Linked DNA regions of Homo sapiens: region 1 is linked to region 2. The links come from fine-mapping of genetic effects on gene expression. Tissue or cell type: monocytes after R848. Region 2 holds a variant in brackets; the other region holds the start of a gene. All regions are shown on one strand. Distances are between the middles of the regions.

Region 1 (8,093 bases), 120 kb before region 2:
GTATATGGTGTAAGAGACCAGCTTCATTCTTTTGTAGTGGATATCCAATTTTCCTAGCACCATTTGTTTAAAAAACTGTCTTTATGCCAATAACACACTTGTTTTGGGTAATGCAGCTTTGCAGTAAGTTTTGAAATCAGGAAGTGAGTCCTTAAACTTTGTTCTTTTTCCAAAATTGTTTTGGCTATTTGGGAGTCCTTGTAATTCCATATGAATTTGAGGATGGAGTTTTCTATTTCTGCAGAAACATCATTGGGATTTTGATAAGGATTCCATAGAATCTGAAGATTGATTTATATAATATTAACATCTAAACAATATTAAGTCTTCTAATCCATGTACATGAGATGTCTTTCCATTTATGTCTTCTTCAATTTCTTTTAGCAATGTTTTATAGTTTTAATTGTACACATCTTTTACTTTCTTGATTAATTCCTAAATATTTTTTTCTTTTTGATGTTACTGTAGATGGAATTGTTTTCTTTTCTTTCTTTTTTTTTTTTTTGAGACAGAGTCTTGCTCTGTTGCCCAGGCTGGAGTGCAGTGGTGCAAGGCACAATCTTGGCTCCCTGCAACCTCCACTTCCCAGGTTCAAGTGAGTCTCCTGCCTCACCCCCTGAGTAACTGGGATTACAGGTGCCTGCCACCACACCTGGCTAAATTTTGTATTTTTCGTAGATACAGGGTTTTGCCATGTTGGCCAGGCTGGTCTCGAACTCCTGACCTCAAGTGATCCATCCACCTTGGCCTCCAAAAATGTTGGGATTACAGGTGTGAGCCACTGTGCCTGGCTGGAATTGTTTTCTTAATTTCATTTTTGGATAGCTTCATTGTTAGTGAATAAAAATGCAACTGATTTTTGCATGTTGATTTCATATCCTCCTACCTTGCTGAATTCATTAGTTATAACCATTTTTTAAATGGAATCTTAAGAAGGACTGGTGTTGGTTCTTCCTTAAACATTTAGTAGAATTCATCAGTGAAGCCATCAGGTCCAGGGCTTTTCTTTGTCAAGAGGTTATTTTTAGATTACTGATTGAATCTCCTTACAAGTTACAGGTTGATATGGTTTGTGTGTGTCCTCACCCAAATCTCATCTTGAATTGTAGCTCCCATAATTCCCACATGTTGTGGGAGGGAGCCGGTGGGAGAAAAAACTGAATCATGGGGGCAGTTTCCCCCATACTGTTCTCATGGTAGTGACTAAGTCTCACAAAATCTTATGGTTTTATAAGGGATTTCCCCCTTCACTGTTCTCTCATTCTCTCTTGCCTGCTGCCATGTAAGACGTGCTGTTTGCCTTCTGCCATGATTATAAGGCCTCCCCATCCACGTGGAACTGTGAGTCCATTAAACCTCTTTTTTCTTAAAAACAAAAAAATTACCCAGTCTTGGGTACGTCTTTATTAGCAGTGTGAGAACAGACTAATACACACGTCTATTCATATTTTCTATTTCTTCATGATACAATCTTCGTAGGTTTTTTGTTTCTAGGCATTTGCTCATTTCATGTAGTTACTCCCATTTTTCAGCATACAATTGTTCATAGTACTCTCTTATAATCCTCTTTATTTCTGTAGAATTGATGGTAATGTTCCCATTTTCATTTCTGATTTTAGTAATCTGAGTCTTTTCCTTTTTCGTAGTCAATTTAGCTCAAGTTTTATTAACTTTTTTAATCTTTTTAAGAACCAACTTTTGGTTTTGTTGATTCCATTTTTGTTTTATCTGTGTTTTGATCTTTTATTATTTTCTTCCTCTGCTAGTTTTGTGTTTGCCATTTGTTCTTGATATTTAATGTTAATAAATGTTTTACTTTTTAATAAATCTGTTAATATTCCAACTGTTTTTTAATATAATTCCTTTCCTTTGTAATCCTATGTTTTAAAAACACTTGAAAACATTGAAACGACATAGGCTTCACCACACTTGTAAAGGTGCCATAGCACAAAAAAGGTTAAGAATCTTACTCCTATTTAGAAACCCCCTTCCCAAATCCCCAATTTCCATTACATATCCTGCTATTTTCCTCTTAGATCACTGGTTTTTAGACACATAAATATTCCTGTTATTCCTTGAACAGAACAAAGCAAAACTTCTAGTCAGGTGCGGTGGCTCATGCCTGTAGTCCTAGCACTTTGGGAGGCTGAGGTGGGCAGATGTCTTGAACCCAGGAGTTGGAGATCAGCCTGGACAACATGGGGAAACCCATCACCACAAAAAATACAAAAATTAGCTCACTGCCAACCACTTCCACCCAGAAGGGATTCTTGTGCCTCAGCCTCATGAGTAGCTGGGATTACAGGCACCCGCCACCACGCCCAGCTAATTTTTTGCATTTTTAGTAGAGACGGGGTTTTGCCATGTTGGCCAGGCTGTTATCAAACTCCTGTCCTCAGGTGATCTGCCCGCCTAGGCCTCCCAAAGTGCTGGGATTACAGGCATGAGCCACAGAGCCTGGCCATCTCCACTTTTTCTTATCCCCCAAAAGGATTAACATCCCTGGCTTTATGTAGAATAGTGTACGCTGCCACATCAGTGTTTGAGTCATTCCCCAGAGGAGAGGGGAATCCCCCCTCCATTTTTTTTTTTGCAACATCTTGTCTTCCCTTTGCTGTTGCTTCCCCCAACACACTTGGTTTTGTTCTATCCTGTACTTCAGATTTGTTTTTTGTTTTGTTTTTTTCATATTGAAAAGATGACATTGCTCCAAGAGGCAAAAATAAATGGGAACTGAAAAAAAAAAGCTTTTTATCTTATTTATTTAATCTTTTAATTCACCTGGAATGAATATTATGTCAATTGGGAGCTTAAATGCTTAAATGTATTTTTCCCCAAATGGTTAACTAATCCTCCCAATAGCACTCATTTGAATAATCTGTCCTTTCCCCATATATGTTACATGTCTTTTACAAAATACAGCCTATTTGAGGTATGTTTCTGGGCTTTTGTTCTATTGAGCTGTCCATTTGCTTACACCAGAAATGCCAGTTTATTTTTTTGTAGTCTTGCAATCTTTTAATTTCTACTAGTGCTTTTTAATTTAACCTTAATCCACTGTATTTGTATTTTTTTCAGTGGTGGTAAAAGGAAAAAATTAAAAATCTAATGAAAGCAGCCAAAAGCACACAATTTATGTCCTGTTAAGACTTCCGCATGTAAGTATCATGCTCCAAATATATTTTTCATCTTTACTTTTTATGACGGAAAGGGCTCAAGTACTTTGGGAAGCAAAACAGAATCGAGGGACGCCGAGAAGATACACAGCAGGCATGTAGGGTAGCGTGGTTGGCAACTGTTCTTACAAAATTTTAATTTGAATTATACGTAATGTACGTAATAAATTACTATTTGGATTTCCCTTTGGCATAAACAGCCAGGGAATATAACTAACATCAAAGATCCCAGACTCTCGACACAATATACTACTAATCGTAACACAATTCTAGAGGGTCAAAAAAGGTAGAGAAGTTTGGACCGTGGAACAGACCTGGTGGAATGTCGACACAAAGCGTTTCAGGGTAGACAAAGCCTACTCAGAACACCCTAAACGCGGAGTTTTGCTAAGTTGGGACGCTAAAAGGCAAGGGAATGACAGGACGTCCGCAGGCTAATTCGCCATTAAGAAACAGAACCGCGGCTTCTTCCACCTCCAGCGTCATCGGCCCCCAATTCGCTGTAACAAACGGATAGTGTCTCGCAGCATCAGACAACGGACTTGGAAATCAGTTTGCGACCACGCATCTGCGCCTTTTCTAGGAAAAGAGGAAGGCGGGTCCAACACTGGTAACGGCAGAAACATAGTTCACAAGGGCCACTGCAAACGCCCCGCCAGCAGCGGAACCGTTATCTCGCGAGACGACGGATCCCCATAAGGCACAAACCTAGCGCCAAGGTTGGCTGTCAAGGTAGATTCCAGGGTGTGGAAGTGGCTTTGTGGTGCCACCTCTAACCGCTCGGAGGTCAACCCCCATTCTACACCGAAAACTAGGCCTTGGCTGCTATGGAAGGACAGCGGCAAGAAAGCCACGCAACCCTAACACTCGCCCAGGCTCATTTCAACAATGGAGAGTACGCGGAGGCCGAGGCACTGTACTCCGCTTACATTCGCCGGTGCGCTTGCGCGGCCTCCAGCGACGAGAGTCCCGGGAGGTAACTATCGCGAGACCTGGGGCCGCGGCGACCCCGGGTGGAGGCGACGTTGGGGTTGTTTGGGCTCCTATCTTTGCCTCTGGAGCTCACGGTCGGCGCTTGTCATAACCCAGCACTAGGACTGAGCGGGCGGACGTTCGTCTTTCTAGAAAGGCCTAGGCGAGGCCTAGGACGAGGGCGGCGGAGAACGCGGGGAGAAGCCCACCCGTGAGGAGCCAGCTGCCGCGACGGTGCGGAGAGATTTCCGGGAACCAAGCCCTCTGCGCGATCCTCGGGCGCGGGCCGCCGCCTCTCACCCCGCCGTCTCTCCTTCCACGTTCCTCATTCGCACCCAGAGACTTAGGACAGATAGGAATTTTCCACTCGTGATTTTAGCTGGCGGGAAATCCGCGACCTGGGAAGGGAAGGGGTCACGGCTGCGTAGGGCCACAGTACCGCGACTCCCATCTCAGTGTCACGGCGCAGGCTCTTGGTGGTGTTTTTCACTTGTGAAAAACGTTTAAATATGTGGAAGAGAGCATAACGAACGTCTAGGTGTTTATCACTTGGCTTAAGCATTATCAGTTTACCTATTGTATTCATCCATGGATGTTTCAGAAGGAACCACCATGTCATCATCACATAGTTACTTAATATCAAGTCGTCAGTGTTGGAACCATTCTGATCGACTAATAAGGTGTTTTGTTCTTTGGTTCCCTTTTCGCAGTTAGTTCAAGTCAGGATACACATCAAGTCTTTTTAAGTCTCTTCTCCACCTTCCCCTCTTTATTTGTTGAGGAAACCGATTCTTGTGTCCTTTGAATTTCCGTGTTTTGGACTTGCTGACTGAATCTCTTCTGTCGTTTAATGTGGTCATCTGTCTCATATTGCTGTGAATTGGTGGTTAAACCTTGAGGTTTGATCCAATTGAATTCAGATTCAATATCATGGCAAGAATACTTTTTAGGTGGGTGTGTGTACTTTCACCAGGAAGCACATAACGATTCGCTGACTTTCTCTTTGTGATGTGAGCGGCTTCACCTGTTACTGTCTGCTTGCCCAAAGCATCTTTTCGGCTTGTGCCTGGATGTGTAGCATTTGTTTTTACTCCAAGTCTTGCCTCGACTGGGCTTGTTGATGGTATGGAGTGGATCAGGATGAGAAAAGAACAGAGGGGTTGGTTGAACAGCTTTTTGAATAGTTGTGAGTTGTCTGTTGTGGATTTGAGTTTTCTGGACAGGATGCCAGCTTGTCTTTTGTATGAGGCTTAACTAAACACTAAGGACTTGATTCTTACCCTGTTTGTTACGCTACATGGAATTAAACCAGAAAGAAAATTGCCTTCTCATTTCAATAACACACAAGAATAATAATAGAAGTTTCTGAACAGGCAATAAGATGATACCATCTACTTTCCTCAGTGCACCTCCCCCATAAAAAAGATAAGTAAACATAGAAAGCGAAACTATTCATGTTTCAAGCTCTAAGAGTAGACTTACCTAGTAGATTTTAAAAAGTATTTATCAGCATCAGGTATGCTGTTGCTGTCTAGTCTTGTTATTCTTCCTTCTTTGCACCTCTCAGCCTAAGAACACAAGTGTCTGTAGCATATATAATAGCTATGCCTTACCAGCACAGGAAAGACAGTTTGTCATAGCGCAGTAGAAGGGAGTTCATCATGCCTGAATTCCAGTCTTGGCACTGCCACATGGCTAATGTCTCAGCCTCAGTTTTTCATCTGTAAAATAAGCTTTTGATAAAATTCTAGGAACTCAAGGATTGAAACTGAATTCTGTCATTTCAACTTTTTCCCTTCAATTTATCTTTTGGAGCTTACATTTATTTTCTAAGTATTGGGTCACTAAATCATTTTGAAACAATATTTGCAATTTTTGAATGCCTTTCATTCTGAATGGTTTGTGACGTTTTCTTTTAATATCTAAAGTATAGCTTTAGTCATAAACCTAATTTCCAAAGTGTGTGTGTATATATATACACACACTTTATATATAAAAAATATATATACACACACTTTATATATATATAAAAAATATTTTTTTTTGCGAAAGTTAGCAAATCCTAAAAATTCACATTTGGGTTAGGTAACTTGAATGAATTCCATTATAATAAATACTATCATTACAAAAATTTTAATATTACAGAAAATTTCGGCTTCAACTGTTAGTCCATTTCTTTAAAATATGAAACAAAATTTCCACATGAAAACGATTTTAGAATTTGATTTAATGAGATCTAATTCTAAGTCTAACATTTTATGATTCTCTATATTACGAATATATAATTAGTATTAAAAACTTATAACAATAATTTTGAAACTTCGATTTAATGACTAAAACCTTACTGGCATCCTGAGATTGCTTTTTTCTTTAAACTCTCTACTGGGAGCAGTTCAACTAGTGTCATGTCACACATAGGTGAAGGGGAGTGGTACCGTCTTGTAATCTAGGTTTTAACGGGGGTGCTTAGTGGCATCCAGAAGTATCCCTACATCCAGTCTCCATCACAGCTCATAGAATAGACGTTTTCTAAAATTGCGACAGTTCCTCTCCATCGTTAGCAAACTTGGTTTGAAGGAGGCCCTTGGGCTGTGAGTGCCTCTTAGGGTAGCAGTAGTTACAGTCCCTGTCTGAAATCTCAAGGATCAAGATATTAAGAGAAGTAGCTTTTATTTACACTAACTGCCTTCACAGATACTTTCGGAGGACTATACTTTTTACTACGGGGTATTACAAAGAAGTGACAGATGAATTCTCTGTTTGGTTCTAATTTGAGAATTGCTTTGGGAAAAAAGAAAGGGAAACAGAATCATCCCTGACTCAGAGCAGAGGCACTAATGTTCTCTGTGCAGACTATTTGTCCTGTGCAGAGAAAGGTTCAAGGCAGCCAGGGGCTGTGACCTGTTGAGCTGGTGGCTGGTCAGAGCTACCTGGCTGTACAGCCCAGGAATGGCTGCTAATTTAAAGCTCTTTGGGCAACCTCTAGTTCCCTCAGGTGCAGAGCCAGTTCTGCACAAAGGACATCAAAATTGACTGGAGCCCTGAGGGGGTCTAAAGGAGCCCACCCTCCTAGCAGGAAGCCAGCCTGGCATTGGGGAGGATGCCAGCTGAGGCTGGAGGGAGGGCAACTCTGTCCCCAGAGATAACTTCCTGGGGATCGTAGCATGTTGAATTTTCACTTAGCGTTAACTTTAGTTTTTTATTGGTGGAAAATGATTTCAAATCTTATTGTTTTAAGATCACTTAAAAATTTGAGAATGAAATTGATTCACATTGTGACATATCCATAGCAAACTCGGGCTTTGGGCTGGCTTTCCCTCTTTGCTTAGTATTTATCTGTTCTGTCTTCTTTGCCCTGCTGGTGTGTGCTTAGAAAAATGAACAATCATTTTAATGTTATATTCAGCAGAACAAATTGGCAGTGAACACACTGTAAAGTTAGTATGCTTTTCAGGTTGACATTGCAGTGGTATAACCCTACAAAAGTAGATAACAGGGTTAAACAAAAATTGATTTTAGCTCTTTATTTGTACGTTTTTTCTTCAGCTTGGATTTTCAGTGTTGATGCTGCATGTTATAGGCTGTGAAGTTTGACAATACCCAAAAGAGAATGAAAGTGGAAATGAGAGGAATTTGGTAACACGGTGTTTTTAATGTGAACTTTTTGTTTAAAGCAAATGCAGCCCTGAGGATTTGGCTACTGCATATAACAACAGGGGGCAAATCAAGTACTTCAGGGTTGATTTTTATGAAGCCATGGATGACTACACATCTGCCATAGAAGTCCAACCCAATTTTGAAGTTCCATATTACAACAGAGGGTTGATACTGTATAGGCTGGGTAAGAATTTTTTTTCTTTTTGAGTTTTGTCATTGACTGTATTCTGTTATTTCAGAGCTTTCAAATGTTGTAAAACTAACGTGGTAATCAAATTTTAAAGTTCT
Region 2 (8,104 bases):
GTGCGGGGCTGCTGCAGTTGTCATGCAGTGTTCCTGGGTAGTTTTCATCCTCAGGGTTTCTTCGTGGGTGGAAAGTGGCAGCTGCCTATCCATGTCACCTGCAGGAAGATGCCAAAGGAAATTCATGGAGGAAGGGGTACTCCTGTGTCAGGGAAGGGAACTCTGTTTACAAAGTGCAAATCGACTCCCACTGTGATCGGAAGGTGGTTTTTAGCAGGATGCCCACCACGCGGAGCCATGCTGAGTTGTTGATTCTGCCTCCGCAGTCGCCCTGCATGCTTCCTAAGGTTCTCTTGCTCTGGGAAGCTGGGTTTGCCCGGTGGCGACCCACTCTCCTTCCTGGCTTCCAGACCTATATGGTCCCTGAATCTCACTCCACACGTGGCCCTGACACAACTTACCTCTGCCTTTCGTTCCTGAGACTAATTGCCCCATTTTTCCCCTCTCTCCTGCTTGTGATTCGGCCCCTTAACCAGATCCCAAGGTTGAGATTTGAGTGCTCCCTTAACCATCCAGGCACTGCCCGGCTATTGACTTGGGCTTCTTCACTCACCCACACACTTGATCCTGAGAGCTGGGCCTGAGTAGGTGTGGGGGCAAAGGAAAAACAAAGATAAACCTGACTCAGGCCTTGCTCTGCAGGTCCCCAGTCAAGGCTGGCTTTGCCCTCACCTATGCTTGAATTCTAGCAGAATCTGGTCGGAGTCATGTGCTTGGTCAGGAAGGGATGAGACAGCTTCTGCACTTTGTGCAAAGGGCTTAGAGGAGAATCCAGACATTCCTCTTCGCTGGGAGTAAACTAGCCACCTGGGGACAAAGAGCAAATCATAACAGGAGTCCGGGGAAACCCAAATATGCCTCAAAGGGGACTGGAATGACAGTTTCTTCTCCCTGGAGGCAGGCCTGAGATAAACTGAAGACTAGCAGTTTTTGCTTACTGAAAAAGAGGAACATGACTCAGTCCTTGGGAGGCACTCATGGCTCAGAAAGTGCCAACTCATCCCAACCAAGCATTCTCCTCTAAAATGGCCATTTCTCTCCTCTCTACCTGCCCTACTCTTAGCCATGCATCAAGGCTTGCTCAAATATGCCCTTCGATGGGAAGCTTATTCTTACACTGCAGGCGAATCAAACTCTTCCTTTTCTGTGCTTTCTTGGCACTTTTGAAAATAGTATCTTGATTGTAATTTATCTTTTATCATAATTGGGCTTGCTGATATGCCCTCCCACTGGGCTTCTTGAGGTCAAGAGCTATGTCTTTTTCATCTCAGTGTCCCTGGGCCCTGGCTTGAGCCTGACACAGAGGAGGTGCTCAGTGAAAGATGTAGCTTTTAACAAAATCTAATGTTACTGCCAGGGGTTGTCTGTTAGCTTTCCTTCATCTACAATCTCCAGGGTTGCATTCCGGCTGCTAGCTACCCTGACCCCCTCTCCACTTGCTCTGGACCTGCCATCACCACAGCCCAAAGCTCTGGGTTGCTAACAGCCTCTGTCCCCCACAGAGCCATTAGTAGGTGTCCTTTGGGGCAGAGGGCCCTGTGCCCAGCTCTGCAGGCCTAACGACACCATTCCTGAATGGCGACATGGATGTGTTTACCCAGCCTCTGTAACCTGACATGCAGCAGTCCTAATTGTCCTCTGCGTGAACCTGGTGCAGTATTTTAGTGTGTCCTATAGAATAATATTGAGAGAATGAACAAATCAGTGGCAGAACCTTCTGAGATTTGCCTAATTGCAACTCAAATTGTTCCCATATTGGAAATTACATGGCTAAGATGCCTTTTGGGGAACTGAATATTAGGAGCCCAGGAAGGTCAGCCAACAATGAGTTGCCAGACTTTTTCTCCATGAACTCTTACCGAGACATTTTCCTGCAATGAGACATGTATAGGTTGACTCAAAACAGATTTCACAATCACTTTATCCAATTTTGGACGGCTTAATTCGGCAGTTCACGTAACCCTCTTTAATCAGCCTCACGTTCAGGGGTTGTTGTTGTGGCTCAAGCACTTTGACGGGTAGATGGCACTCAGGTCAGTACCCCTAAATGGGGAGGCTCTGGCCAGTCACTGCCTTGGCTCTGGGAGCCTGGACTATATTTGGAACTCTTAGGGGCCCTGGGTCATTGTGAAGTCTCCAGCGAGGTAGGAAACCTGTGATTCTTGTTCCCAGGCGTGCTTTATGCCCTGAGTGGGATGCCCGGGGATGATGAAAGTGAAAGTTTTGTGTGTGTGTGTGTGTGTGTGTGTGTGTGTGTGTGTTAAGATTGTTCCAGTTTTGACACTGTTGTGAGGGGTATCGAGGTCTCTCAGGATTTTTGACTCTGACATTGAATAACAATAGGCTGGCTATCTGCCTAGTTCAGCACCCTCAGGGAAAAAGTAATTTCCTGTCTTTCCCTTTATGGCATTGGGGAAGCCATATGCCTGGACTTAGATTGGGAGGTAAGTCCAATTGCTGATATCTACCTTGTCACCTCTCAGGGGTTGAGGAAGTTGCAACCTCTACCAGGGAGACTTTTTTGTCTGGCACTTTAACTTTGCAAGCCCTTAGTTGTTGCTTGTTCCATGGGTAATCACAGCCATCCTGTGAGAGGGCCCCGGGAAAAACGATTCCTCTTTTACATATAGTGTAAACTGAGGTCTGGGCAGCTCAAGTGATTGGTCCAAGGTCATTCGGGGAGTTCATGGCAGAGTCAGGTCAGAACCAGCCTCCTACTCTCAGTGCGTGGGTCTCTTTTGTTTTGTTTCTTTATTAAGGAATCTGCCTCTCATTTGCTTGGATGAAACACTGTTGAGCAGTTTGGGCTGTGCTGGTTCTGAAGAGTGAAGCAGCATTGCAGGGGTGAGTGGCGTCATCTGCATATCACCCTCAAACCATCCCCGAGTGTGGCCAGCCCGCTCCTGGGTATCTTCCCAGTTACCTGAATGTGGCTGTCGACTCACTCTCCACCTAAACCCTTCAGGTTCTTGCTCTGTGGAGAGGTAGGGCAACCCTGGCTACAGACCAGGTATGTTCAGGGCCCAGGTGGGGAAGGAGAAGGCCACACTTGCCAGGTACTATTCTGGTTGCTTTGCATGAAGAGCTGCAGTCAACGCAGTCAGATTTTGTGAAAAAGAAAGCCACTGTTGCCTGGTTGGTGGGAGGGATGTGTGTGCGTGTGTAGGGTAGCATGTGTGTGGCATGTTATGTGTGTATGGTGTTTACAGTGTGTGTAGTATGTATATGTAACGTGTGTGGTATGTGACTGTGGTGTGTATATGTGTATAGTGTGTGTGTTGTGTGTATGGGGTATGTGTGTGGTATGTGTTTGTAGTGTGGGTTGTATGTGTGTGGTATGTGTTTGTAGTGTGTGTATGGGGTGTGTGTGTGGTATGTATTTGTAGTGTGGGATGTGTGTGTG[T/A]TGTGTATTTGTAGTGTGGGGTGTATGTGTGGTATGTGTTTGTAGTGTGGGGTGTGTGTGTGGTATGTGTTTGTACTGCCCCCATGACTCAAATTATCTCCCACTGGGTCCCTCCCACAACACGTTGGAATTATGGGAGTACAATTCAAGATGAGATTTGGGTGGGGACACAGAGCCGAACCATATCATTTTGCCCCTGGCCCCACATACCATATGTGTGTGTGGTATGTGTAGTGTGGGTTGTGTGTGTGTGGTATGTGTTTATAATGTGTGTATGGTGTGTGTGTGTGTGTGTGTGTGTTTGAAGGGTAGTGGTCAGGGAAGGCTTCCTGCAGTGGGGGTGGATTTTGAGTGAGCATTCTCAGCAGGCAGGGTAGTGATGGGGACAAGGGAAGGTGTGGGGGCAGTGGGGGCAGGGAAGGCAAATGGCTGGGGCTGTATCTGACTGATACTGAGGGGCCTGTTAGGAGTCCATGCCAGGGAGGTGAGCTGCTGTTGTCCTGACCAAGCCCTTTGCAGGCGCCTGACTTCCCCGTTGCAGCAGTAGAGCCAGGTCTTTTGGCAAGTGCTCTTCCTCCAAACACTGCCTTCCAAAGACAGTGATCTGACTCCAAACATCTGCAGAATGGAAAAAGAGAACAGAGGCAAATGGGATGGGCGGGGCAGTCATATCTTAAAACTCCAAAATGATCTCCTCTGACTCCATGTCTCACATCCAGGTCACGCTGATGCAAAAGGTGGTTTCCCATGGTCTTGGGCAGCTCGGCCGCTGTGGTACAGCCTCCCTCCCAGCTTCTTTTATGAGCTGGTGTTGAGTGTCTGTGGCTTTTTTGGGCACGTGGTGCAAGCTATAGGTGGATCTACCATTCTGGAGTCTGGAGGATGGTAGTCCTCTTCTCACAGCTCCACTAGGTGGTGCCTCAGTAAGGACTCTGTGTGGGGGCTCCAACCCCACATTTCCCTCCTGCACTGCCCTGGCAGAGGTTCTCCATGAGAGCCCTACCCCTGCAGCAAACTTCTTCCTGGACATCCAGGTATTTTCATACATCCTGTGAAATCTTGGCAGAGGTTCCCTAACACCAATTCTTTACTTCTGTGCACTGGCAGGCTCGACATCACTTGGAAGCTGCCAAGGCTTGGGGCTTGTACCCTCTGAAGTCATGGCCCGAGCTCTATGTTGGCCCCTTTCAGCCATGGCTGGAGCAGCTGTGACACAGGGAACCAAGTCCTTAAGCTGCACACAGCAAAGGGACCCTGGGCCCGGCCCAGGAAACTATTTTCTTCTAGGCCTCTGTGCCTGTGATGGGAGGGGCTGCCTTGAAGACCTCTGACATGCCCTGGAGACAGTTTCCCCATTGTTTTGGGGATTAATATTGGGCTCCTCGTTAAGCAAATTTCTGCAGCAGGCTTGAATCTCTCCTCAGAAAATGGATTTTTCTTTTCTATCGCATTGTCAGGATGCAAATTTTCCAAACTTTTATGCTCTGTTTCCCTTTTAAAATTGAATGCTCTTAACAGCACCCAAGTCATCTCTTGAATGCTTTACTGCTTAGAAATTTCTTCTGCCAGGTACCCTAAATTATCTCTCTCAAGTTCAAAGTTCCACAGATCTCTAGGGCAGGGGCAAAAATGCCATCAGTCTCTTTGCTAACAGTTCCCAAGAAGTTCCTCATCTCCATCTGAGACCCCCTCAGCCTGGACCTTATTGTTCATATCACTATCAGCATTTTTGTCAAAGCCATTCAACAAGTCTCTAGGAAGTTTAAAACTTTCCCACATTTTCACGTCTTCTTCTGAGCCCTCCAAACTTTTCCAGTCTCTGCCTGTTACTCAGTTCCAAAGTTGCTTCCACATTTTCAGATATCTTTTCAGCCACACCCCACTCTACTGGTACCAATTTACTGTATTAGTCTGTTTATGTCTTCTGATAAAGACATACTAGAGACTGGAAAGAAAAAGAGGTTTAATTGGACTTACAGTTCCACATGGCTGGGGAGGCCTCAGAATCATGGCGGGATGGGGGGCAAAAGGCACTTCTTACATGGCAGCAGCAAGAGAAAATGAGGAGGATGCAAAAGCAGAAAGCGCAGATAAACCCATCAGATCTCGTGAGACTTATTCACTACCACAAGAACAATATGGGGGAAACTGCCCCCATGATTCAAATTATCTCCCATTGGGTCCCTCCCACAACATGTGGGAATTATGGGAATACAATTCAAGATAAGATTTGGGTGGGGACGCAGCCAAACCATATCATTACTATACCCTGGGAGAGTTACTAGCAGGAAGAGACAGTCCACCACAAAGACACCTCCATTCTGGATGGGAAGACTGAATCTGCTAGTACAAAAAGTTTGCACAGTTTTGCAGCTAACTTCCATGACTCTCATTTCTCATGTGAGAATCCTCTACTTCTCGATCTTGACATATCCAATGACCTCTGAGGCTCACCCGGTTAATCTCAGAGCCTTGACCTTTTCCTGTGGCTCTTTAGAATGAGAGAAGAGCTGAGTGCAGTTTGCACTCTCCTTCACATCTTTATCAGTAAACATGCAGGAAGCATCACCGTGTCTAGGCACCACGGAGGCCACTGTGCCCCAGGCAGACACAGGTCTTCCCTCTATAAGCCTGAGGTGTGGCAAGGTCAGCAGCCTGGAGGAGTGAGAAGCAGGGTGTGAGGGTGTAGGGTGAGGCCAGAGAACTGAAGAGGACCCCTACCCTAATCCAGGAGGTCACGAAAGGCTAGCATATCACCAGGGAGCCCAGAAAAGGGGCAGAGTGTTTTGCAGCAGTGGGAACAGCAGAGCAAAAGTGCCTGGACAAGAACAGGCATGGTGGGTTCAAGAAACTGAGAGATTTAAACAGCTGGAGCTCTGGGGGCCAGGGAGAGAGTGGTCTATATGAAGTTGGAGAGGTAGGCAGAGAGTACTTTATCCTGTGGGAAGCCCTCTCCTCCATTCCAGTCCCCATCAGAAAGAAGAGCCCATGAAGGTAATGCCAGCTGGCAGTGAGCACCAAAGACAAGGACGAAAAGCTACTGCCTAAATGCACAGGTGATCTGTTGCCATGGGCATTGCCTTGGGCTCCCCAACTACTGGTCCTAAAGCCATGAAGCAGAATCTGTCTATAGGGCCAGCTGGCATCCTCCTTCCACAGCCTGTCATGGTAAGTACCAGATTTATCTCCGACCCTACCTCTAGGCATCTCAAGCACCCTAATGGGAAGAATTTTTTTTTTTAAATAAGGCCAAAAGCCAGCTTTTAATCTATGAATAGAATCCTTTCAATCTATGGGTACAATCAGCTTCTCCATACCGTTTTGCCCACCCACCCCCATTTTCTGTTTTCCCCTTAATTATATCTAAAGTTATGTAAGGGTTTCTCCCAAATACAATTTATGGAGAGTTGATTTTGGAAATGAATTCTGTTTGCTCAGATAAGGGTAACCTGGCAAAGAGACATTGAGAATAATCTTAAAATTGGACATTTTGTGACCTGTTTTTTGCCTAGAAAAACTAGCCTGATTCAGCTCCATTTAGCAGATGGGTAAAGAGAGTCATGTTGCCTTGAATCCTTTCTGTGCTCACGGAGGTGGCCCAGGGTGTGATGCCCTGTCCTTTGCTGGAACCTCCTCTAGACTGAAGCTCATCCCATATCTTGTGTTTGTGATCAGCACTTCCAATCCTCTTTGCCCTGAGTAGTATTTGATTGTAGAATAGGGAGGAGGGAAGCCCAGGTAAGGGCCCCTGTGAGCAAAGGTGTGCGGGCTGGAAGGGATTGGTGTGTCAGGAACAGTCAAGAGGCCAGTTTGCTGGTGCAGAGACACATGTAAGGCAATAGGGAGATAAGGAAGGTGGAGGCCAGATCCCAGAAGGCCTTGAATTGCAGGCTAAGATATTTGGACTTTATCTTCTGGGTAACAAGGAATAATGGAGGCCTTTAAGGAGAGGGTGACAAAAGTGAAAAGGTGTGGGCTGAGAGCAGTGGCGCTGTGCCTTCCTACCTGCAGGCGTTGCTGTGGGGTTGGGTGATTGTGAACTGGGCAAATACCTCAAAAGTTTGAACAGGCGTCCCATGCCCCAGGGTCCAACTATGTGCCAGCAACTCCTAAATTCTTCCATTTTCTGAATTTGAAACTCGCATGACAGTTGCCTTCTTAGCATCTCCACTTCGAAGTCTCACAGGCTCAAACTTAAGAGGCTCCAAAGGAAGAACTTGCTATTCTCTCTCAAACCTGCTCCACCTCAGTCTCAGTCTCAATAAATGGCATCTCTAATTGCCCAGCTACTCCGCTGGAAAACTGAGGCATCATCCTCCCTGCTTCCCCCTTGGTTGTCCTCATACTCATTCATCACCAATTCTGTTGATGCTATCTTCAAATATTTTCAAACTTATCCATTTCTTTACTATGGTCCCTACCTTAGCCTAGCTGCCATCATCTCTCTCTCGAACTTCTCTGCAACTTACTGATCTCCTTGATTCTATTTTAGAGCCCCATCCAACCTACCGTCCCCAAGCAGCCAGACTGATGGTTACATAAATAAATTGTCATGTAACTTCTCTGTGTAGAGTCCCTTTTTGGCTTCCCTTTGCACGAGGACAAAATGTGCAGCCCTTGCTATGGCCTCCAAGGCTTCATTCTGGTGGTCCAGACTCCTCTTTGACCCCCTCTCTTGCTGCTCTTCTCTTTGCAAATGAT

The links. PIP is the estimated chance that this variant, and not a neighbour inherited with it, causes the effect.
Region 1: it holds the start of TTC32, and the variant in region 2 is fine-mapped to the expression of TTC32 in monocytes after R848 (Quach 2016, PIP 0.91).

Annotation. Positions count from the first base shown.
Region 1 is chr2:19,897,765-19,905,857 of GRCh38, reverse strand. TTC32 (tetratricopeptide repeat domain 32) reads left to right here and starts at 3,875. Exons shown (of 3, transcript NM_001008237.3): 1 at 3,875-4,152; 2 at 7,823-7,989. The coding sequence starts at 4,004. RefSeq lists enhancers at 3,523-3,762, 3,152-4,032, 4,213-4,312, 4,393-4,452, 4,593-4,782 and 1 more.
Region 2 is chr2:19,779,490-19,787,593 of GRCh38, reverse strand. No RefSeq gene overlaps it. Among named protein-coding and RNA genes, the nearest start is that of LINC00954, 85 kb to the left of the region's middle. RefSeq lists an enhancer at 249-1,448. The variant T/A (reference allele first, on the strand shown) is at 3,404.